Linked DNA regions of Homo sapiens. The protein of the gene in region 6 purifies or fractionates together with the protein of the main gene of each other region. This does not show direct contact. Each region holds a gene or a part of one and is shown on either strand. Other genes may lie near its edges.

Region 1 (3,500 bases), on a different chromosome or scaffold from region 6:
CCACCACCACACCCAGCTAATTTTTGTGTTTTTAATAGAGATGGGGTTTCACCATGTTGGCCAGGCTAGTCTCGAACTCCTGACCTCTGGTGATCTGCCTGCCTCAGCCCCCCAAAATGTTGGGATTAAAGGCATGAGCCACCGTGCCTGGACTATTTTATTTATTTATTTATTTATTTATTTATTTATTTATTTATTATGTTTTGAGATGGAGTCTCTGTCACCAAGGCAGGAGTGCAGTGGCGCGATCTCGGCTCACTGCAACCTCCGTCTCCTGGGTTTAAGCGATTCTCCTGCCTCAGCCTCCCAAGCAGCTGGGGTTACAGGTGCATGCCATCATGCCCGGCTAATTTTTTTATTTTTAGTACAGACAGGTTTTCACCATATTGGCCAGGCTGGTCTTGAACTCCTGACCTCGTGATCCATCTGCCCGGGCCTCCCAAAATAGTGGGATTACAGGCGTGAGCCACCATGCCCGGCCTCTTTTTTTTATTATTATTATTATTATTATTATTATTATTATTATTATTATTATTATTTTGAGACTTTCTCACTCTGTCGCACAGGCTGAAGTGCAGTGTGGTGTGACCACGGCTCACTGTAGCCTTGACCTCCTGGGCTCAGGTGATCCTCCCACCTCAGCCTCCTGAGTAGCTGGGACCGTAGGCACATGACACCATGCCCAGCTAATTTTTGTATTCTTTGTAAAAGGACAGGGTTTTGCTATTTTGCCCAGGCTGGTCTTGAACTCCTGGGCTCAAGCAGTCCTCCTGCCTCAGCCTCCCAAAGTGCCAGGATTACAGGTATGAGCCACTGTGCCCAGCCCACAATCATCCCCTTAAAAAAGACAGAGTAAGATCTTCAACAGTTTGAAATTTTATATTTTTCTTTTTCTCCTTGAATTCCTTTTCTTGTTTACTCCTCCATGGAATTTTTAATGTAATTTTATGCTTGAAAGCCTACTCTTGGAAACCATATATTTCTCTGCAATAAAAATACAAGTATAAATTTAAAATTTTCATAACATGTGACCAAGTGTTAAAACATTTTCTTTCAAAATTATTTTAAAGGTAATGTTAATATAGTTATTCAAAGCCATATATATATATATATAAAGTAAATTTATATATATATATAAAGTAAATTTGAAAATAAGCCTTGGCTGGGTATGTTGGCTCACACCTGTAATCCCAGCACTTTGGGAGGCCAAGGCGGGCAGATTGCTTGAGTCCAGGAGTTTGAGACCTGCCTGGGGAACATGGTGAAACCCCATCTCTACTAAAAATAGAAAAATTCGCTGGATATGGTGGTGAACCCCTGTAGTCACAGCTACATGGGAGGCTGAGGTGGGAGGATTACTTGAGCCGGGGACATGGAAGTTGCAGTGAGCTGAGATTGTGCCACTGCACTTCAGCCTGGGCAACAGAACAAGACCCTGTCTCAAAAAAAAAAAAAAAAAAAAAAGGAAAAGGAAAGAAACCTTAAAAATAAAGTGTTATCGTAAATAAGTCCTATAATGAAATGGATAGGATTGCTTTCCCCACCTTGATTAGTTTGTGGATCTATGAATGCATATTGCACATTGATGGAATGAGAGAACTGCTATTGAGCTGGGTTTAATTTTTTTTTTTTTTTTTTTTTCTGAGACGGAGTCTTGCTCTGTCGCCCAAGCTGGAGTGCAATGGCATGATCTCAGCTCACTGCAACCTCCACCTTCCAGGTTCAAGCGATTCTCTGCCTCAGCCTCCTGAGTAGCTGGGATTACAGGCATGCTCCACCATGCCCAACTAATTTTTGTATTCTTAGTAGAGACGAGGTTTCTCCATGTTGGTCAGGATGGTCTCGAACTGTTGACCTTGTGATCCGCCAGCCTCAGCCTCCCAAAGTATTGGGATTACAGGTGTGAGCCACTGCACCTGGCCCAAAAACATTTTTTCAGTAGATAGATTAACATATTGTTAAATAGTTTTGGTGATTTCATTTTTCTCTGCAAATGGCTTTTACTTGGAAGTTGTAAATTATTAATCTTCTCTCTTATGCACATATGCAACATAATCCTATCCATGACATGTCTCATTACATGCACTGATTCCCAGAACAGGGGCCAGTTGGAGGCTTTTGAGCTTTTTTTTCGAGACAGAGTTTCGCTCTTGTCACCCAAGCTGGAGTGCAATGGTGCAATCCCAGCTCACTTCAGCCTCCACCTCCTGAATTCAAGTGATTCTCCTGCCTCAGCCTCCCGAGTAGCTGGAATTACAAGCGCCTGCCACCATGCCAGCTAATTTTTGTATTTTTAGTAAGATGAAGTTTCACCATGTTGGCCAGACTCATCTCGAATTCCTGACCTCAAGTGATCCACCCACCTCGGCCTCCCAAAGTGCTGGGATTACAGGCGTGAGCCACCACGCCTGGCTGGTTTTTGAGCTCTTGATCCAGATATGCATGCCTACCTTGGTTGAGAAAAATCACTGCTCTAGAAGACACTATAGGGTTTCCTTAGAAGGTTTGATCATAGGTAATATGAAGATTGTGTCTCCATATTACCTTAGACAAGTTTTTACCAGAAATTAGTTTAGTTTATAGATCTGTCTTATGAGTCCATATTCTAATGAAATATTTTCCATTTTTCTGTAGGATCTTAAATCTTTAAGAAGTCAGACATCAAGAGGTTCTGCCAAGCTGTCTCCTCAGTCCTTCAGTGTCAGGCTCACAGATCAGCTGTCTGCTGACCAAAAACAGAAGAGCATCAGCTCATTGACTCTTTCAAGTTGTTTAATTCCACAGTATAATCAAGAGGCTTCAGTTCTACAGAAAAAGGGGCATAAAAGAAAGCATTTCCTAATGGAGAATATAAATAATGAAAATAAAGGAAGCATTAATCTTAAAAGAAAACATATTACATATAATAATTTGTCAGAGAAAACAAGTAAACAAATGGCATTGGAAGAAGATACTGATGACGCCGAAGGCTACCTAAATTCTGGGAACTCAGGAGCATTGAAAAAACATTTTTGTGATATTAGGCATTTGGATGATTGGGCAAAAAGCCAGCTGATTGAAATGCTCAAACAGGCAGCAGCCCTGGTGATAACTGTGATGTATACTGATGGTTCCACCCAGCTAGGAGCTGACCAGGTTAGTAAACAGTGATGTTTTTATTTGCTGTCTTGACACCATAAAAGAAGCCCATTTTCTTAGTGTCAGATTTTGATAGGAGAGCTAGAAACAAGATTTTAAGGCTTTCCTTCCCCTCCAGTGGTAAGTGATTGACAATGTATGCTCCCATCAGTTTCTTAGGAAACTGTAAAACTGTTTTCCAGAGTGGGTGTACCATTTTACCTTCCACCAGCAGTGTACTAGGGTTTCAAATTCTCCACCTCCTTGTCAACACATGTTGTTGTCTGTTTTTTTAGCCATTCCAGTGATTCCGAAGTGGTATTTCATAGTGGTTTTAAATTGTATTTCCCTATTATCTAGTGACATTGAGCATCTTTTCATGT
Region 2 (3,500 bases), on a different chromosome or scaffold from region 6:
CTGCCCTGAGTAACTCAGGAGCACAACCCCTTCAGAAGTGTTCACACGCAGCCCCGCCCCTGAGCCCGCGTCTGCCGGACGATCGTCGATCACAGGCATGGACCCTGGGTGGAACCGACTGTTTTCATTAGCACTCGCTCTCTGTTTGCACTTTGTTGACGGCGCAATCACTGCCCCTGCCATTGTCACCGTGCCTGTTGTGGCCGTTACACCACCAGATGCAGCAGTAACCGCACCCGCTGTGACGGTCACTGCACTTGCTGTGGCATTCACTGCACTCGCAGCGGCATTGACTGTGCCTGGGGCGGCATTCACTGTGCCCACCGTGGCGTTCACTGGAGTGGTGAGAACATTCACTGGCCCCGTAAGAACATTCACAGGCCCTTTCAGGACGTTCACGGGCCCAGCAGGGGTGCTCACCAAACTTTTCAGTGTGGTCACTGAGCCCTTCACGGGGCCTTTCAGGGCATTCACCGGGACCAGGGAGACGTTCACCAGGCCAGTGAGTGCGCTCACCAGACCAGTGAGGGTTTGAGGAGCTGGTTTTGCCAAGGTTATCTTCTGTGAATTTTCCAGGTCAATGCTGACAGGCATCCGGCTAATAACAGAGGTAATTTTGGGAGCAATGACTGGAGCCACCTTTTCCTTGTCAGCAGCTACCAGCACCTCCGAGGCTTGTATCTCAGAGTTGTTTGTCACTGGAGGTGCTGTTTTTTCTTCTAAAGGCTTTTTAGAGTCAACTGGCGGGGGCGGGGCCTCATGTAGGCAAGGGGCAGCACTGACAGGCTCTGCAATGGCTGTGGTGACACTTGTGGAAGTGACACTTGTGGCAGACACATACTTGGGGTCCATGAGAATCTTCCTCAGGGTGCTGGAGCTGGTGTCAACATCAGAGGCCTTTGTGTCTGGGGGAAGAGCTGGAGATGGAGTAGACTGAGCCCGTGGCTCCTCCTGCCTTGTGATCCACTCTGTCACCTTAGTAGGGGGGCTCTGGTGTGGGATCCCCCCAGAGGCGACAGGAGGTGAGAGCTTTGCTGCAGTTACAGAAGGCAGTGTGGGTATGGGGATGCTTGGATCGCTGGGTGGGGTCACCGGGTCACTTTCAATGATGGAATGCACCCTGAACCTGGCTTGAGGCTCCTCATCCACCGGTGCTGGCTGGGGAGGTGGGGGAAGGTCTGGGGGCACAGATGCTTTGGTTGGAGTCCTTTCCTCAACACTGATTTCTTGGGACGAATTCTCTGTGGAGGGAATCTTGCTTAGGTCAGAAGTACATGACTGAGGAGGAGTGGAATGGGGTTTCTCACTCTGCTTTTCTTCCTGTGGGGCTTCGGGGTGCTGTACTGTTGTCCCCTCATTTGCAGCAGGACTCTCACCTTGAGCTTGGTTGGATTCAGGGACATGGCTCTCTACAGGAGCCACCACTTTCTTGTTTGTGTTTCGCTTGCGGCGTGATCGGGTTGTTTTCTGGCGCCCTTTGTCTTTCCGAACAAGAGTGACTTCCACTTCTTTAGACCCTTTGGCTTCTGGCACTGAGTGTGAGGTTTCACTGCTATTTCCTCTGGCTTCCTTGGTATCTGTTGGGCCGGCTGAGGGGTCAGGAGCATTGACTGGAGGCCTAGAAGATTCTGTAGCAGCCTCAGTTTCCAGGATGCCAGATACAGCCTCATCTGTCTCCATTCCTTCCTCAGAAGGCTGCAGCGCCTGTGCACCTGCGGGGGGTTGCAGATCTGTCTGGGATTCTCCAGGATAAGGTGGAGGTGCTGGGAAGTTTTCTGGCTCCCCAGAAATGTCATTGATGATGGAGCCGATGGCCGCAGCCAGCTCTGTTTCACTTGCTTGGTGTGCAGGCTTGTCCCTGTCCTCTGGGGCAAGGCCCTCTGGTGCATCTGCCTTATAGGCAGCAGAGGCAGAGGCCTCAGCGAGCTTTGCGATGTGTTCCACGGCCTGCTCCAGCTCCATCTGCTTGGCTAACTGGGTGGCTTCTGGGGACGGCCCAGAGGCAGACACGTCTTCTTTCTCTGGTTCCTTGTCTGGATCAACTGGATCACTTTTCAACTGGGATGATAAACCATCCTCCTTTTGGGGACTCTCACTTTTCTCAGGGGAGACTGCCACCACCCCAGATTCCCTCTCCCCTGCCTGTGCTGCAGCCCCCCTGGGACTGACAGCAGCATCCACATTTTTCAGACTTGCAGATTTGTCCACTGCTAACCTGGAGTTTCGAGATCTTCCTCTCTTTGATTTGGAGTTTTTTTCAGGGGCCGGTTTTTTCTCTACAACTTCAACAGGGGCGGTTTCAGGGGGGTTTTTGTCTGTGCCAGCATCTTTTCTGTCACGTTTCTGTTCACTCCCTGCCTCCTCCTCAGCAGCCTTGGGTTCCATGGAGCTCTCTTTCACGCCTATTTGGGGGCCCACCTCAGTGGTGGCCTCAGGACGTGTAGCATCCACCTTCGGTTCATTTTTTCCCTTTTTCCCTTGGGGTCCACCACCAGCTGCAGTTTTCTGGGACCTTGGCGACCGCCATCCCTCAGGTGGCTTGAGTGTTTCTGCAGGTTCCTTGGCCTCGTTCTCCTCCTCTTCATCGGCTCGCCGGCGTGTCTTTGGAGGCCTTCCCCTCCGAGGGGTGGTGGGAACCGCTGCAGCCTCCTGAAGCTCTCGCTCCAATCTCTTTCTGGTCACTCTTGGTTGCTCAACGGGCTCTTTGACAGGAGAGCGGTTTTCATGGTCACCCATGGTTGCATAGACGCTCCTTACATTCCGGCGCCTTGTTCGGCTGAGAGGCAAACTTGGTTCGGGATGTTCAAGGTCTGCAGCAGAGTTTTTAGAAGCAGTCCTTGTAATCTTCTCTGCCTCCATCTTCAATTCCAAAAGCTTCTGTGCTTCTCCCCGAGGAGAATTGGACCGCTTGAGTTTTTCCCGGTCTATCCTCTCACTCTTCCTTGTGACGGGCTTCTCCACGATACTCACTGCAGCTGCCTGAACAGGGGTCTTTGAACGCTTGCTTTTGTTTGGCTTTTTATCCTTTGCAGCAACTGGAGGATCAACCTCTAAATCTTCAGAAGCTGGGGGCTGAGACTCAGGAGCAGCTTCGGCTTTCTGGTTTGCATCAGGCTCAGCATCTGCAGTGGCGTCTGGCTTTTCGGCCTTTGGCTCATTGGCTTCCTCAGACTTCTGAGCTGGTTTTGAAAGTGGCTGGGTACTGTCAGGCTCTGGATCTACGTTGCTCTCTGCCTGGGAAAACGAGGCCCCGGGAGTTGGAGGCTTGGCATCCAGATAAGGCGGCTGGTCACCTGATGAACCTTCCTCAACACCCGCAGGCATCATGGCAGCTTCTTTATCGGGGTCTGCTCCTGGGGGCAGGTCTACTTGTTCCAGCTGTTCCACAGGGGCAGGAGCAGGTTCAGATGCAGGCTTTGCTTCTTCTGAGACGGTAGCTGGCTCCACAGTCTTCTCTTCTGTTACCAAAGGCGCCTCTACCGTTTTGTCACCAGTGGTCT
Region 3 (3,500 bases), on a different chromosome or scaffold from region 6:
TCTTCCTACAGTTTACCCACAGCACCCAGCAAAAACCCTTGTCATAGCACTTAGCAAACTCTAAGGAGATTAATGTGCATTTGTCTTACTCCCCAACTATGCTGTAAAGCTCCTTGAGGACATGGACCATCTCAGCTACTTCACAGCCCCAGAACCTTGTGTGGTTTTGGCTCAGGAAGCATTTAATTACACATAATTTGTTACATTCATTTAGAGAAATGATCCTCTATGAAAATATAACTATATATTGAACATAATATACATTTTAATACCTATTTATAAGTATTTATTAAAATGTTTTAATGCTTTAAGGAATATCAAAATTTGTGAACAGCCAACCAGTCTAAAACGAAAAGGGCTGCTAACAGTGTTATGAATGGTGAACAACTAAAACTCTCATACATTGCTGGTAGGAGTGTAAACTGGCAGAATTTACTAAAGCTAAACAGAAATATACCCCGTGACTCAGCAATTCCATTCCTGTATATATACCCAACAGAAAAGATAAGAATGTTCTTAGCAGCATTATGCTTAACAGCCCCAAACTGGAAATAATTCAAATGTCCATTAACATTAGAATGGATGAATAAATTCTAGTATATTCATACAAATGCAAGAGCAATGAAAATGAACTCCTGCTATACATAGGAACAAAGATACTACATTATAAAATTAAAAAATAATCTGCGACGATGGGGTGAAAACAGTGGGGACCTCTGGAGGTGGTGAGGGTCATGGGTATCAACTGGGAACAGACACCTATAGGAAGCCTTCTGTGGCAATGGAAGTGTTCTCTAACTTGATCCGGGTGGTAGTTACACAGGTGAACACTGTAAAAGTTTACCCAGCTGTGCACTTAAGATTTGTGCACCTGTATTACAACAAAGTGAAGGAAAATTGCAACAAGAAAAAAGAAAACTTGTGAACAACTGTGTTAGGGCTATGCCAACAGCATGTACAGCCACAAGACAAAAAGCAAACTGATAAAAGTCTCTTTGTCCTTTCCCTATAACATGGAAAATATTTTTTTTAAAAAAGATTACTTAAAATGCACAAATGGTATTCCTTTTATTATAATGTTTTAAACTTGGCTTAAAGTTCAAAATACTATTTCCAGATAACTTTCCACTGTTACATCAACTAGGCAACTTTGTTATGTTTATGTTATATGTATCAGTTACTTATCAGCACAGAATTTTAACCACTCTGCTAAATTTTGAGAAAACAGCTAAACTCAATATAAAATTTGGCCTACAGAATTATAGTGGCTATTTGTTACTAAAAATATTCCAAAAGAAATTTACTTATTTTACTATATTCCATATTCTTTAACTTAAAATCTGCTGCCACTGTTTAGTAAAAGTGGGACAAATAAAATTCTTTAAAATATAGAAAATACAGTTCCTGTTAAGATTTTGCAAACAAAAAAATTAATAAATAATACAATTTGAGTACTCTAAAACAATATACTTTGTAGTCTAGATTGTGGTTTTGGTCAGTATGTCTGACACTATGAAGATTTACATCAGTTCAGGGAATGAGTTCTAATACTATTAATAAATAGTCAATATAACCAAACACCTGACAGGATTCCCCATATGAATATTTTTAGGAAAGTATACAAATAAAAAGATTAACAGGTTTTTAAAATCCTTAAGAGCAAGAAAGAACAAAAGTATCTAAAACTTATACACGACAGGCAGAACCTGGGTTACAGTATACCTAAGGCAAGAGTGAATGTAGCACCCTGAGACACAAAACATCTTAAAATTACAATCTTATATGCGTATATATAAAATAGGACACTTTCTATTGGTTATGTGAACTAGATTATAACCTACAAATCTTAGTATTAACCAGAACTTCCTGACTGGCTGACATAGCACATTAGTGAGATAATACAGGTGGTACTTGAGACTTTGAAACCTTTTTCAAAGACTTTCTTCGCTTTTGACTTTGATGCTGTCACCTTCAAGGCACCAGTCCAAGTGCTCATTAATCTGAGACTCCAGAACTTCATTCTGACAAACTGGGCAATTAACCATTTTGCTCTGACTGGATGAACTGCTGGAATTCTGAGCTGTGGTTGTACTATACTTTGGATCATTACCACTGCTTTTTATTTGCTCTTTCTTGATAAAAAAATTGTCAAAAACAGTCTTATCTTCTAGCCTAGGTCGTTTATTTGGGAATGTATCTTCAGACCCACTCACATCCTGGGATGGCATCACAGATGCTGATTCCGTTACTTTTGAAGAATTTCTTAGGGATATCTTAGAAGATGAAACCCTTCTCTGAGAACTAGAAGAGACTGAGTTTTTAGGGATGTTGCCAACTGTTACACTTATCCTTGGAGATCCATTCACACCTCTGAAAGCCTTTTGGTTGGCAAATGATACTCTAGGAAAGTAGTTGCTTAGAACATTTTGGTGACTGTTACTAACAGCAGGGGAGACCAGATGAGAATTTTTACTTGAACCATTCTGTTCAAATTTCACCTTGATTTTAGAATTAGGTCTTACAGCATTTGCTGAATGGTTTTGATTTAAAAGATCTTGGGTTTTATTAATGGCATGTGAAGTGATCAGTTTCCCAGGTGAAGGTAAATTGCTTGTTTCTCCTAGAACATATCCTTTCCCACTAAAAGGGATTACTAGCTGGGCCTCACCTCTGTTGGGTTTATCTGCCAAAAAAGCAAAGAAGATTGTTATGTAAGTGCCTCAACTCAAAAGAAATACAGTAACAAACATTAAACTAATGTACAGTTTTCTCAAAATGAAGAACTAGTATTTTATTCCATCTTACATCCATACAATCCTATTAATGGGAGGAGGGCAATCTTCAGAATTCAGGAGTTCTGATATTGAGAGAATATAAAGGATAAAAAAAAATTCTCTCATATTTAAATAAAGAATCTTATCATGCCAAAGACCAACAACAAGGCAACATTTACCTTGAAAATTGCTTAGTGTCCTTTATGTGTAATTCCAGGAGGGAAAATCTGCTGCCTCATTCTTATCTTTCCTTCTACTCACGAAAATGAAGATACGGTCTTTCCATATCAATTCATCTATAGCTCTTTCACTCAATAATTAAAGATTTGGGAAATATAACCTATGTTCTTGGGTCAACAACTTCCCAAGGGAAGAAGCATCTTCAGTAACTCTGAACTTCACAGGAAAAGGGTAAATCTTGAAGATGAAGTACTGGCAAATATATGTCATATCCTTTTCCCATTCTTTGAATGAACATACATACATCAATAGAGTCACTTGGATAGAATCCAGCTGATAGGAAGGGGTGTAGTTAGGACGTATATTCCGGGCATTGTTACTTGAATTATTGTTTTTATTTTGACAATCTTTTTGCCTTCTGTTTCCTAATAACTCAGTGAGTCAAGATAGGGAAAGGAACTTTACCTCAAATATTATCAGAGATTGAATTTTGTTTCTTTGAATAAAAAGAAACTGAAAAAAGTTAATAAAAATAAAAATATCCAT
Region 4 (3,500 bases), on a different chromosome or scaffold from region 6:
CTCTACTGAAAATACAAAAATTAGCCAGGCATGGTGGTGCGTGCCTGTACTCCCAGCTACTTGGGAGGCCAAGACAGGAGAATCGCTTGAACCTGGGAGGTGGTGGTTGCACTGAGCCAAGACGGCACCACTGCACGCCAGTCTGGGCAACAGAGCAAGACTCCGTTTCAAAAAAAAAAAAAAAAATTCACTTTAACCTGGTGCAGTGGTGTGTGCCTATATAGTCCCAGCTACTCAGGAGGCTGAGGTGGGAAGATAACTTGAGCCCAGGAGTTCAAGACCAGCCTAGGTACCAAAGCAAGACTTCAACTCAAAAAAACAAAACAACAACAAAAAAAAACACAAAAAATTCACTATTTGTGCAATCAGTATTCCCCAAACCAGATTTCCCTAAATCAAATTTTCTGCACATGGACAGATGTCTCCATTCCCCAAGAGTTGCTTTAAAAACCTAAAATGGCTGGGCACAGTGGCTCATGCCTGTAATACCACAACTTTGGGAGGCCAAGGTGGGAGTTCGTGAGCTCAGGTGAAACCCTGCCTCTGCGAAAAGTACAACCCCGTCAATCCCTTCTCTAGTTAGAAAATTTCTTATCTTTTGGCCATGTCTAGTGGCTCATGCCTGTAATCCCAGCACTTTGGGAGGATCACTTGGGCTCAGGAGTTTGAGACCAGCCTAGGCAACATGGTGAAATAGTCTCTACAAAAAATACAAAAATTAGCCGGGTGCAGTGGCATGTGCCTGTAGTCCCACCTACTTGGAGGCTCAGGTGGGAGGACTGCTTGAGCCCCGTGAGGCTACAGTGAGCTGTAATTGTGCCATTGCACTCCAGCCTGGGCACCAGAGTAAGACCTTGAATCAAAATGAGTAAATAAAATAAAATAAACCCGCCAAAACCAAACTTGAGAGGCAATTATTATTTGGATAGCTTGATCAATATATAATCTGAAAAATTCAATTTATAAAAATTAAATTAACTAATTAACAAATGCCCTTATCTCTGCTCTTTTACAGATATCTCCCATTACCTGAGGAAATCATTCCATCCTATTCAGTTTTCTGGGGTTAAATGTCTTACAAAAAGGACAGGGGTAACAGGATGAGAAATTAAATGACTAAACAAAAGAGAAGATTTGGCTCATTATCTTACTTTTAAGTATGGGATTACAAAAAATGAGCTACAGAGCTGCCAGTTTGAGTTTTGTTCCATTTTTCTAGAGAAGTCAGATAATTTAAATATAGCTAGAAATGAGGAGAAATTCCTGCTTTGCTCAGGCATTATTCAGGGTTGATCCAGGAGGAGACAAACACTGTTTGTGGAAGATGTTTAGGATAAGTCAGCTTATTAAGGGGTTTCATCATCTAGAATTAGAGAAAAGTGAATTGGTACTGCAGGTAGGATCCCCTTTAGCAAGCTCTTCAGGTCAGGTGATTAATTGCAAAATGTTCATAATTCTTTTTGTATCCTTTGTCAGCCTGTAGAGAATATTTGTTTTACAGTTTTTCAAATATTTCAAATATACTAATACATAAAATATTCATATAAGAGAGAGATTGAGTTTGTAAAAAGAAAAAAAGGAGGCTGGGCATGGTGGCTCACGCCCGTAATCCCAGCACTTTGGGAGGCTGAGGCAGGAGGATTGCTTCAGCCCAGGAGTTCAGTGCTGCAAGTGAGCTACAATCTCACCACTGCACTCCAGCCTAGGAGACAGTGAGACTCCATCTCAAGAAAAAGGAAAAATCCAAAGGCCATTAATAGGTGATTGGTTATTAATCAGTTACGAAATGTACTAGCAATGGATTAAATTTCCCCTCACAATTCAGCCAAAAGACAGGGCTCTAGAAGACCAAAGGGCTAAATGCCTAGTCTAACATTACTTCTGAAATCCCTGAACTTGTATGTGATTAATGATTGCGTGATTATGTACATTACCATGACAATTGATTAAGTGTATTAACAAGATGAACAAGACATATCATTTGGATTTTTATTTTTATTTATTTATTTTTTTCGAGATTGAGTCCTGCTCTGACACCCAGGCTGGAGTGCAGTGGCACCATCTCAGCTCACTGCAACCTCCACCTTCCAGGTTCAAGCAATTTTCCTGCCTTGGCCTCCTGAGTAGCTGGGATTACAGGCTTGGGCACCATGCCCAGCTAATTTTTGTAATTTTAGTAGAGACGAGGTCTCACCATGTTGGCCAGGCTGGTCTCGAACTCCTGACCTCAGGTGATCCATCTGCCTTGGCCTCCCAAAGTGCTGGGATTACAGGCATGAACCACTGCGCCTGGCTTAGATTTTTAATAATTTTGCTATCAGACACAATAAGCATTCTTCATGCTATCTAGATTGAAATATCCCCTTGTCCTTTACATGTTGAAATTCTGTTGATGTTAGTCAATTGAAGTATAAATGTATATTTATTAAGAGTATAATGCTATAATTATTAGTGATTATGAAACACATGCAAAAATATTGGTAATAAAAATATAAGTGACGGCAACCATCATAAGTCAGCCTCTGAAAATATGTAGAAAGCATCTTTTCCAAGCAGTACTCAAAAACTTTGCTAGGTGGGATTATATAAATGAAACTACTTTAGCCACCATGAATGAAATTTGCAAATCCAGGAAATGAAAAGATTTTTTCAAATCTTAAGTCAGAGAAAAAAGAAAAGGAATAATGTGGTAGCCACACCACCAGCAGCAGCCCCTTATATAAAATAATATTTTGTTCTTCCATTAACTTTGGTGCAAGGTGATCATGTATTTAGTATTAAAAATGTGCAATACAGTGAGTGCAGAAGCAATCTCCTGGCTGAGAAATTCCTGTTCTTCTACAATAATGTCAAAATTCACTAAAATTTGGTCATAAAATCAGCAACATTATAAAAATTAAATAAACAAAAAACACACAAAACTTTAGATTTATTCCTGTATCCTAGAAGTTCCTTCTATAATGGTAAAATATGGTTTCAGCCTTGGCTGAAGATTGATTTTACCAGTTGAGAGTTCTTGGTCAAAATGCAATGCACCTCTAAAATATAAATAAAATGAAGTAGATGAAACCTGAAGGAGGAATTAGAACTGACTCTCTGTACTTTGGCTTTTCCATCTCTAAAAGTAAACCACTATCATATAAAGTTATGAGGTTCAAACGAATTAGAAGCACATAAAATGGCATAGCACACAGTAAGTACTCAATGAAAGCCAGCTATTATTATCGTGTCCAATGTATCTTACTGAATGTGGGAATTTGTTTTTCAAAATGTATAGTCACATCAGGAAAAAAATCGGATACACTAGACTATTAACTGTTGTTAGTTGTGGAGACCTTTCATTTCTTGTTGCAAACTTCTGCAGTGTTTGCCTTTTTAATCTTCTATTTTCTAGTTTTAAAAAAAGATAAAATGTACTGAATTAACAGATTTGTTATTTTATATTTTTTTCAATCAATAAATGCTAAAAGTACAAACTAATGTCATGTAGATATCCTTGA
Region 5 (3,500 bases), on a different chromosome or scaffold from region 6:
TATGGAAAACATGTTCCAAATGCAGCCTACATCCGATGAGACAGATGTGCTTAGACCACTTTCCACACAGGGGAGAGTCAGCATTATATCTGAATATTAGCTCTGAAGGGCTCCAGATCATGCAGTTCAATTCCTTCATTTTAAAAACAACAAATTGGGTCCCTAGTTACTCTGAGCACAGCAGGTCCTAGAAGCAGGTCTCAGGATTCTCTTGGCCTGGGGAATCTTGGGATGCTGCAGTAGGTCATCTCATAGTGGACACTAATCATGCAAAATCCGCACAGGGTAGCAGAGAGGTCATTAGCCTGGGAAGCGACGAGAAGACTGCTGGTACATAGCCATGAGACCCTGGGTAAGCCACCTAACCTCTCTCTGAACATCAGGACTAAAACTTACAGTCACATTTCTAAATTTGGACCCTCATAAATAAGATCTAACTATGATCAGAAGGCTGACTCAGTAAAATTTTCTATCCCTAGTTGAGTTAAACAAGACATCTAACACATTTCATAACTTAGTGGGGTCTTATTCCTGGCTGAGCTGCTAGCTGCACATTTGTGAAGCAAAAAAATAAAATTTTTCAGTTACAGTTCACCCATGTCATCAACATTCAGCTGAGAACATCTACAGTAAATAATAAGCCCATTAGGACTGTCCGAATCAGCTACCTGGAAAACAATGTACAGGCACCAACGGGGCTGGGCCGGGGAGGGGTGGCAGTTTCCGAAGGGGACCCAGCTTGCCTGCTGGATCAATGCAGAACTCCTCAGCATACACCCACTCACTGACACTACTCTGCTCACTGAGTAACCCAAATAACACCAATCTGCATTTCATTCACGGAAGGATTTGTTCCCAATGCCTTAAAGATGCCTCATCTCACCCCCATATTTACCAAAGTTGATTTCCAGTTATTCCTTGTGGGTCTCTCACCACACCTAAGACAACTGGCCAGCCCCAGCTTTACAACAAATGACTCTCTCCTCACTCATGCCAACTGCCTGGGCCCCAGAGCCAGTGGTGCAGCCTGGAGACCCATCTTCCTCTCTCCTGATGGTAGCATTCTCTCAGCAGACCTCACCAGAACAACAAAAAAACAAACACCGAGGCCATGTCACTGGCACTCTATAAAGCCTGGGGATCACTGCTCAACCAGAAATTAGTTAGCAAGTCTTCTGGAAGATGATTTAGAAGATAATGATGGACAGAACATATACTAAAGAAAATGTATGGGGAAGGACCAGCATCACAGGGGTGTAGCAGTACGTGACATGCCTGAGAGGGAAGGGTGCACTCTCAGCCCCTTACTGCACTCAACCTGTGTGGGAAGACAGGTAGGGAGAACAGAAACTGCTTGGGCATCTCATTTCTGCCTCAGAACTAGTAAAAACAATGGATTCTCTCTCCTTGGAAAGCTGCCTAGCAACAAAAAGCCTTCAGGACAATTGAGGGAAGAAAAAGGAGTCAAAGCAGGAGCCCCATTGGATCCTAACGGACTGAACTAGCCTATATCCTGCACCATGGGTTGGATTGTGTGTTGATTACATTACATTCATCATCCCTACTATGCGGAGCACCTCAAGGAGAGGAATATTTTATTCTTTGTATTCCCAGACCTGGTAGATGATAGGCATCCAATATTTGCAAAATGAATGGACTAACTTCAGTTTTATCATAATCTCAGAGTGAAACCTTTACTTCTTATAAATTATATGGAAAGTATAGAGAAAACAAAAAGAATCCATATTTCCAGCACTGAGAGATAAAAATGTACTTGATATTTCCAGCAGAATGAAAGCTACTGTGCCAAGTGCTGACTTTACGATCCACTCACCCATGCAACCATCAACCTTACAGCTAACCTAAAACAAAAACTGGGACCATATTTTACATAGTTTTACATCCTTAACCATTAAATAATTGTTTGAAAAACAAGCTACTCAGACCTGTCAACATTTACTTTAAAAAAATTTACATTAAATTTTAAAAATAGACAAAGGGAGAAAATTCACCTTCTGCTAGACTACCTTGACGTTAGTATTTTGGTATGTATCCCTTCTCCATGAATTTGTCTTTTGTATGTATTTAGGGGCATGGCATGCTCTTTGGACAGTGACGAGATGGGCAGCCTTATATACCATGGTATTTACTAGTATAAACTGCCTCATTTCCATTAGTCCTCATATACAGACAGGGAGGCAGGCCTTATTAATTAGGACAGAAGCCAGCTAGCCGTCTACTCCATTGATTTATCAACAGTATGCTGTGAATAAGTCTTTAGCAATGATTATGTATTTTATGTGGTTGGAAAATAAGGTCTTCCTTTGGCTTTTAAACTCCTGACCAAAGTACAAGTGGTTCCACACTTCTGGTTTGGAGTCATGGGGAATGGAGGTGCTGCCACAACGAAAGCTACCTGAGCTCGCGCCACTCCCTTCTTCTTCCTCCCCTTGGGTATAATCCACATTTTAAATTTCACCCCGTCCAAAAGAAGAAAGTATTTCGAGGCCCAGATCAATCTGTCGGCAACTCTGTCCAAGTAATACAGGACCTGCTGACAGCACTCACAATGATCACACAAGAAAATTACAAAATGGAGATTCACTGTGAAGACGACTGAGCAGGGAAAGGTTCCACTTAAACACCCAATATATCTTGAACTCCCATTTACTAAGTTCTGAAGAACGAAGTAAGATATACTAAAATACCCTGAGATCTTAGAATGGGAAGCCCATGAGAGAACTCATGCCAAGAATGATGAAGGGATAGTTGTATTGATATTGGCAAAATCCCTCAGCAAACTGCGGCACAAACTATTTTGAAAGAGTGTTCCCAGTCTAGAGAATTTACAATTATTTTTAAATTTAAGCATATATTAAAATTAAGCATATATTTATAAAGTGTTTTGCACTTAAAAATAACCTTCCAAAGGTAGAATACAATAAAAAGAGGTAAAATCTATTCTGGGGATAGACTGCCCAAAATGTCATAACATCCTACATGGAAATAAACAATAGGAAGTAAATTATGTTGTTATAATAAAACACTATTTATAATAAGGGAAAATTGGTTAAAATAAATGCATTGGAAAAGATTCTATTTCTAGTTAACAAAACCTAGAGATAGAAACAGACTTAAGAGAGCTTGGCTTCTCCAACTGATGAGAAGGGCTTTAATTTTAACAGAAGAATATAGGAAGCTCTCTTCTTTCCTCTTCCAGGTGCCTAAATCCTGAAGCTTTCTACACATTGGGTAATACTGGAATTTGGAGGATACTACTTAGACAGCTGGATATGTAAGTTGGAGAAGGAGTGCAGTAAGTAAAAATGTACCTGTTATTTCAAGGCAGAATGAAAGAATATGCATGGCTTGGTTAAACTCTCCCTCTCTAAATTACAAACCAAACCCCACAAATCTCTTCCACTAAGGAAAAGGAACATTTCATGGTCAGGGTGATAACTGCTGTGTAGAAGTTTCAACCAGGGATATGCATCAAGTTA
Region 6 (3,500 bases):
ATAAAGGCATATAGATCAGAAAGGAATGAGTAAAACTGTCTTTATCCACAAATGACATGATTGTGTATGCAAAAATTTCTAAGGAATCAACAAAAAAGATGCTGGAATTAAAGTGAATTTACTGCAGTCAGAAGACGAAAGGTCAATATAAGTTATATTTCTTTGTGCAAGGTCTGTGCAATGAAAATCAAACAACACTGTTGAGAGAAATAAAGATAGAGAAGTGTATCATATTCATACACTGAAGACTCGGCATTGTTAAGATGTCAATTCTCCCAAATTGATCTCTAGATTCAATACAATTCCAGTGAACATCCCAGCAGGCTTTTGGTAGAAATTGACAACCTGATTTTAAGTTATACATGGAAATGCATTTAAAATGCAACGATCCTAAAAAAAACGAAGAAAAAAAAGTTGGAGGACTTACAATGCCTGACTTCAAGACTTACTACAAAGCCACAGTAATCAAGATAGTGTGGTACTGGCACAAGGATAGACATATATGAGTCTAGCATATAAGCATTTTAAAATATTGTACCTTGAGGTATTTACTGCAATAGGGGTTATCCTATCATTGTTCAGGAGTTAGACAAACAGTTTACAGATTATTTAGGTTCATGCTCTTTCCTGTTCTCTATTTTCAAGTTGATTTATCTTGGAAAGCTAAAGCAACAGTAAACTTAGGCCTAAACAATTGGTTTTAGTGGGCAGTAGTTTTGGTGAAAAACTACTAAGTTTCTAAGATCAATGGAATAGAAGAGTCCAGAAATAGACTACAGATGGCTAGCTGAGGTCATACTGACTGAGATGGGGAGAAATTTATCAGATAATGAAAATGTTCAGTATCTTAATTGCAGTAGTAACACAGCATACACATTTGTCAAAATTCATGAACACTTTTATACCTTAATGTGCACTTAAAATGGATGTATTTTATTGTATGTAAATTACACCCAAATAAAGATGATGTTAAAATATATTTTAAAACAATCTCCAAAACTTATCTTGGTTTTTAATGTGAATCTTGTCTGGAAGAAAACTAACATTGTTAAGGACTCATAATGTGCCGGACAGTGAGTTCTGCACATTTAATTCTCACAAACATTTTCTAAAGTAGTAAATTCTCACCCGATTTTCAAGAGTCAAGCCCAAGGGCATCTGCAATGCCCGTGCTGCCGTCACTGCTACCCTCTTACTATGTCTTCTCCACAGAAACTTTTCCACCAAAGCTACTACCAACTAAAACCAATTTCTTAGGCCTAAGTTGACTGTTTTTAACTTTCCAAGATAAATCAACTTGAAAATAGAGGACAAGAAAGATCATGAACCTGAATAACCCATAAACTGTATGTCTAGCTCCTCAACAATGATAGGGTAACCCCTATGCACTAAATATCTTAAGGTACGATATTTTTAAATGCTTATATACTAGACTCTTAAAGAGAAGTACAAACAAATTCCAACATGAGTCTTTCCAGCGTCACATAGCAGTTAAGGTATAAAACTGTCTGTAATAAAGTCAGTGGTAGAATTCTCCCACTGGGGCAATATTCTTATTGTTACAGATTTTTAAACTTTGAAATTCTATATCAAGTACTACTTGGTGGAACCACCTATCTGTTATCCTGTTAAAAACAAAAATTCTGAAACTTAACGTCAAAAAACACTTGGCAAATAAAGAACCACTTATTGTGACCAAAAATTTTACTGCCATAAATGCTATAAGAATCATAAAAATATCAAAGAGGAACGAGGTAGAAAATATAGAAGCCTTGTAAAAACCTTCAATATTCAAGAGGAAGGCAGTGAAAAAGACCTTCTGAAAAACTACAAGATAGAAGAGCTAAAGGTGAAACATAAATATGTGCACATATCTTTGGTGTTAAATTAACACTACCTCATGTAAAAATCGCAATTTACTAACTCACAGGAACAAAACATACTTACAGTTATGTGAACACTGAGGTATTATCATTGCAATGTTGAAATACTCGAAGCAAATTCCACACCGCAGCAAATCATCTATTGTCTGAAATGCAAATATGCATATATACATATCAGAAAGACATCAAAATTGGAAGTCCTGTCACAAAACTTTTTCTCTATCCCCTAAAAAAAAAATCAAACTCTTTGTCAAATACACAAATTCAAAAGCTAACTCCAGATAAACTGCAAGGGATCTTGACAAATAAATAAAAACTTCTCTCATATGACTCTTATACATTCAGTCTCAGGTTGCCCAAATTGCTTTAGACAGCTAAAGATGATGGCACACCGATTCTTGTGCCATATTGTCATCCCTTCACATAAGGGCTACTGTACTTCTGTTCCACTTCTAATGCGCTTCCAGCTCTTACTCCAAGCCTCCTCCTCTTCAGACTCCAACACCTAGCCTATAGTCACTATTGGGTGAAAGGTGGCCATTGCCACCACACAAGTTAAGAATCAAATCAAAGAATGTTAAAGCCAAACTCCAGAAACTGTCTAGTCAAAAGAGGAAACTGGTATCAAAAGCAGGCACACAATAGTAGGCATCAGTCAAGCCAAGACCAAAATTCCTGTCTCCCGTCTGGCAGTCCAGTGCTTTCGGCATGGTACTACACATGCAGCCAAATGAGGAAGCCTGGAAAGAGCTGGGGCAGTGAAAGCAGAGGAAGGGAAAGTGGACAACTTGGAAAGAGAGATGTGTGCCAACCTGGAATGCAATCCAAACAGGAACGGAACTACTCTGGCAACCTAAAATCTTTCAAATTGTTTAAAATAAAATATTATTCCATTCAACAGAAATATTTTTTAAAAGGAGGAAGCTCTCGACGGGAGGATCGCTTGAGTCCAGGAGGCGTAGGTTGCAGTGAGCCCACATCGCACCACTATACTCCAGCCTGCATGACCGAGTGAAACTGTCTCAAAAAAAAAAAAAAAAAAGAGGAAGCTCTCCATCATACTGATATGAAAAGATTGCCAAGATAAGTGAAAAAAGGAAATAAGGTATAGACAGTACATATACTATGCTACGGTTTGTTTAAAAGGAAGAGGTGAGTAAGAATGTATTCTAATAGGCCTAGCATGGTGGCTCTGTAATCCTAGCACTTTGGGAGGCCAAGGCAGGAGAACTGCTTGAGTCCAGGAGTTTGAGACCAGCCTGGCAAAATAACAAAAATCCATGTCTATAAAAAATTTAAAAATTCGTTGGGAGTAGTGGCGCATGCCTGTAGTCCCAGCTACTCAGGAGGCTGAGGCGGAAGGATTGCTTTAGCCCAGGAGTTCAAGGCTGCAGTGAGCCGTGATTGCCACTGCATTCCAGTCTGGGCGACAGTGAGACCCTATCTCAAAAAAGAAAAAAAGGAAAAAAGAATGCATTCTATTTTCATTGTAAATGTAAATAATGAGAAGATAAACAAGAAGTCATAAATAATGATCAGGGCCAGGAACATGGTAAGAAGGAGACTTTTACTTTTTATTTTATGTGTATTTTGAACCATGTGAACCTATTACCTGAA
Region 7 (3,500 bases), on a different chromosome or scaffold from region 6:
GCCACTGCCTACAGTGACTTCTGTTTCACCTGGATAGTTTACTAGATAAACTAATTTTAAAAGAGCCTCTTCAGCCAAGTAAGCTGCAGTCAATCTGAAATATGACCAAGGAGATCTCAAGGAACCAATTTAATTAGTAACATGTTTCCCAGTTTCAGGTTCCTCTTCCTGGCCTATGCCTGACAGATCTTATTTTGAAAAAACTCTGAATCAAAGCAACTCTTCTGAACCAGAAAATTATTAGGCAATGTTTCCATGAATTACTTTTCTAAGTCTTTATTTTCACTTACATTCATCATAGAATCCATAAATGCGATTGATGCTAGCACACTCATGGTTTCCTCTTAAGAGAAAGAAGTTCTCTGGATATTTGATTTTATAAGCCAATAGCAAACAAATGGTTTCCAAAGACTGCTTTCCTCTGTCCACATAATCTCCTAAGAAAAGATAGTTGGCTTCTGGTGGGAAACCTCCATATTCAAATAATCTCAGTAAATCTGTATATTGTCCATGAATATCTCCTAAAAAGAGAAAGAGTCAGTTTTAGAAAAATTGGTTACTGTTATAAGCAGCTTCTATGAAATGATTCCCAATGTTCACATCCTGTGTAATCCTCCCCTACCCTTGAGTATGGGCTATATTTGGTGACTTACTTCTAATAAGCGAAAGTGAGATGGGCTGTCACTTCCAAGATTAAGTTACAAAAGACTGTGACTTTCATCTTGCTTGCACTCTCTCACCTTCTTCCATGCTCGCTGATGAAACCAGCTGTCTAATGAAGCATCCCACGTAGCAAAGAACTGAGGGAGGCCTCTGACCAACAGCTCATTTGGAACTGAGGCTCTTAGTCCATCAGTCTATAAGGAACTGAATCCTTTCACAGTTCAACCTTCAGATGACTGCAGCCCGAGATCACGCCTTAATTGGAGCCTTGTGAGAGACCCAGAGCCAGAGGACCCACTAAGCTGTTCCTGAATTCCTGACCCACAGAAATTGTGAGATGGTAAATTAATGTTGCTGTAAGCCACAAAGTTTTGGAATGATTTATTATACAACAATAGGTAACTAAAACAATTTTATTATCTGGTAGTTTAACTTACGTCACTTTTTAACACCAAATATGGAGACAAATAGTAAACCTTTAGAAATATGTAGTACAAATAACTTCCATTACCTTCAAGTTATTTCTATATTACATTTTAAAGAACACCTTCAAAGAATACTTTAATTCTAATAATTTTAAGATCACCTCTAAGTAACTACATTTGCTTAAGTTTATACAGGGGATTGATTAGTTCCCCCAAATTCTGAACTACTACCTCTTACTTGAAGGTGTGATATTCTAAGTTAACTGATCCATTCAACAAACATTTATTGGCCAGCTGCGGTGGCTCATGCCTATAATCCCAGCATTTTGGGAGGCCAAGACAGGTGGATCACCTGAGGTCAGGAATTCAGAACCAGCCTGGCCAACATGGAGAAACCCTGTCTCTACTAAAAATACAAAAAGTCAGCTAGACGTGGTGGCTCACACCTGTAATCCCAGCTACTCAGGAGTCTGAGGCAGGAGAACCACTTGAGCCCGGGAGGTGGAGGTTGCAGTGAGCCAAGATTGTGCCATTGTACTCCAGCCTGGGCAACAAGAGTGAAACTCTGTCTCAAAGAAAAACCAACCAAACAAACAAAAAACAAACATTTACTTAGCGAGTATCTCTTATTTGCTGGGCACTGTACAAAGGACTGTAAAAAAGTCACTGTAAAACTTAAAAGAATACAAGGTATAAAGTAGTATAATCTTCAAAACAAATTTAAATAACATCAAAGTTAGAAGACCACAGATATCGCCATATTGACCCTCTAAATTATACACCTATTTTTTTCTAACCAGTGTACTATGATGCCCTTTTCGTGACATCCTTGACAACACTAAACATCAATCTTTGGTATTTTTTTATAATCTGACTAGAGTTGGAGACTTGCTTTAAATTGCACATCACTGATTACTAAAAAAAGAAGCTGACGTCCTTATGTTTACTGGCCATTTGAATTTCTTCTAAGACCTTCCTCTTCCTATGTTATTTTTATACTGTATCGCCTTTCTCTTATTTATAAGAACTCTTTATATATTATAAATAGAACTCCTTTTATCTGTTGATATATAGCAAGTATTTTCATCTTGTCTGTAACTTGTCATTTTTATAAGTTTCAATTTTTATACACTTTTATTTAGTAAAGCCTACTGATCTGTTTTATACAAAAATTTCAAAAAATGTTTTCTCTAGATCTTAAACATGGGAGGAAAAACATGATTCAAAAGAGTTGTTTCCAACTTTACCCATTTACATACCACAAATTTTCAGCGGTGCTTCCAATTCCAAAAGAATAGGCTGGCTGAGAAAGATCTCCCGAGACTTGATACATAAGCCTCGAACTTCTGCTTCAGTCATCTGCACAATCTTTCCTGGACGACATCCTCGTACTGACAAACGATAAATAAAACAGTCAGTTTTCTAAAATTTACTCATAATAATCTTTCAAAAAGAGTCATGCCCATACTTTAAAAATCAGAAAAGTCACACAGGCAGCAAATTACCCTATTTGGTCCCATGGTTTAAAATAATGTTATTCTATGATCTCTGACTTCTATTTTCATTGTTACTGGTTCCTGATGATGCTCCTCAAGTCTGCTGTTGATGAAATGCAGTCCTGTTTTTTGCTGTCCTGTGACCAACCTGGGGCCTAGTAGCCAAAGAGACTTAAAAGATTTCAGGGCCGGGCACGGTGGCTCATGCCTGTAATCCCAGCACCTTGGGAGGTTGAGGTGGGTGGATCACCTGAGGTCGGGAGTTCAAAACCAGCTTGATCAACATGGAGAAACCCCATCTCTCCAAAAATACAAAATTAGCCAGGTGTGGTGGCGCATGCCTGTAATCCCAGCTAATTGGGAGGCTGAGTTAGGAGAATCGCTTGAACCCGGGGGCAGAGGTTGCAGTGAGCTGAGATCGCCCCATTGCACTCCAGCCTGGGCAACAAGAGCGAGACTCCGTCTCAAATAAAAAAAAAACAAACAAACAGAAAAAAAACAACAACAAAAAAAACACACACAAAAAAACATTTCAGAGCCCGCACCCTTTAAGGTCTGGCCTGCTTATCTCGCATCTAGTAGGATGTCAAAACAGCCTCATTAAGAACAATGTGCTATGAAGAAAGGGAGATTAAATAGTAATTGTCAGTAGGTGATTTAGCTTCACACACTTTCTTGGAATGTTACCAGCAGTCCCCAAAATTTTAGCAACTCCTATCTCTACTTTCTGATCAAAAGAAATACAAAAAAGATATCAGCTATGTATTAAAAATTAACTTATCGTTACATTCCCAATAGATCATTATATTAAAACCTCTAAAGGCTATTTAGATGGAGTGAGGCATCTTTGCATTACTGAGCCATAAGATAATATGGTTTCCAGTAACTTGTGGGATGAAGGGGAACAGAATGTTGC

Evidence for each region.
Region 1: the proteins of RAD18 (region 6) and POLN purify together in Homo sapiens (affinity purification with western blotting; 2 studies listed by BioGRID). This does not show direct contact.
Region 2: the proteins of RAD18 (region 6) and SPEN purify together in Homo sapiens (affinity purification with mass spectrometry, with the first as the bait; one large-scale study listed by BioGRID). This does not show direct contact.
Region 3: the proteins of RAD18 (region 6) and SPRTN purify together in Homo sapiens (affinity purification with western blotting; 2 studies listed by BioGRID, with this or other methods). This does not show direct contact.
Region 4: the proteins of RAD18 (region 6) and SLF2 purify together in Homo sapiens (affinity purification with mass spectrometry; 3 studies listed by BioGRID and IntAct, with this or other methods). This does not show direct contact.
Region 5: the proteins of RAD18 (region 6) and WRNIP1 purify together in Homo sapiens (affinity purification with western blotting; 2 studies listed by BioGRID). This does not show direct contact.
Region 7: the proteins of RAD18 (region 6) and PPP1CB purify together in Homo sapiens (affinity purification with mass spectrometry, with the first as the bait; 2 studies listed by BioGRID). This does not show direct contact.

What each region holds. Positions count from the first base shown.
Region 1 is NC_000004.12:2,207,622-2,211,121, reverse strand, and holds part of POLN (DNA polymerase nu), read left to right. Parts: intron 1-2,634; coding exon 2,635-3,135; intron 3,136-3,500. UniProt on the Homo sapiens protein: DNA polymerase with very low fidelity that catalyzes considerable misincorporation by inserting dTTP opposite a G template, and dGTP opposite a T template. Is the least accurate of the DNA polymerase A family (i.e. POLG, POLN and POLQ).
Region 2 is NC_000001.11:15,931,207-15,934,706, reverse strand, and holds part of SPEN (msx2-interacting protein), read right to left. Parts: coding exon 1-3,500. UniProt on the Homo sapiens protein: May serve as a nuclear matrix platform that organizes and integrates transcriptional responses. In osteoblasts, supports transcription activation: synergizes with RUNX2 to enhance FGFR2-mediated activation of the osteocalcin FGF-responsive element (OCFRE).
Region 3 is NC_000001.11:231,351,793-231,355,292, reverse strand, and holds the end of SPRTN (DNA-dependent metalloprotease SPRTN), read right to left. Parts: exon of another isoform or gene 2,684-3,500; coding exon 1,932-2,683; 3' UTR 270-1,931; downstream 1-269. UniProt on the Homo sapiens protein: DNA-dependent metalloendopeptidase that mediates the proteolytic cleavage of covalent DNA-protein cross-links (DPCs) during DNA synthesis, thereby playing a key role in maintaining genomic integrity.
Region 4 is NC_000010.11:100,919,463-100,922,962, reverse strand, and holds part of SLF2 (SMC5-SMC6 complex localization factor protein 2), read right to left. Parts: intron 1-3,500. UniProt on the Homo sapiens protein: Plays a role in the DNA damage response (DDR) pathway by regulating postreplication repair of UV-damaged DNA and genomic stability maintenance.
Region 5 is NC_000006.12:2,775,393-2,778,892, reverse strand, and holds part of WRNIP1 (ATPase WRNIP1), read right to left. Parts: intron 1-3,500. UniProt on the Homo sapiens protein: Functions as a modulator of initiation or reinitiation events during DNA polymerase delta-mediated DNA synthesis. In the presence of ATP, stimulation of DNA polymerase delta-mediated DNA synthesis is decreased.
Region 6 is NC_000003.12:8,956,973-8,960,472, forward strand, and holds part of RAD18 (E3 ubiquitin-protein ligase RAD18), read right to left. Parts: intron 2,030-3,500; coding exon 1,948-2,029; intron 1-1,947. UniProt on the Homo sapiens protein: E3 ubiquitin-protein ligase involved in postreplication repair of UV-damaged DNA. Postreplication repair functions in gap-filling of a daughter strand on replication of damaged DNA.
Region 7 is NC_000002.12:28,775,830-28,779,329, reverse strand, and holds part of PPP1CB (serine/threonine-protein phosphatase PP1-beta catalytic subunit), read right to left. Parts: intron 2,480-3,500; coding exon 2,348-2,479; intron 522-2,347; coding exon 291-521; intron 1-290. UniProt on the Homo sapiens protein: Protein phosphatase that associates with over 200 regulatory proteins to form highly specific holoenzymes which dephosphorylate hundreds of biological targets.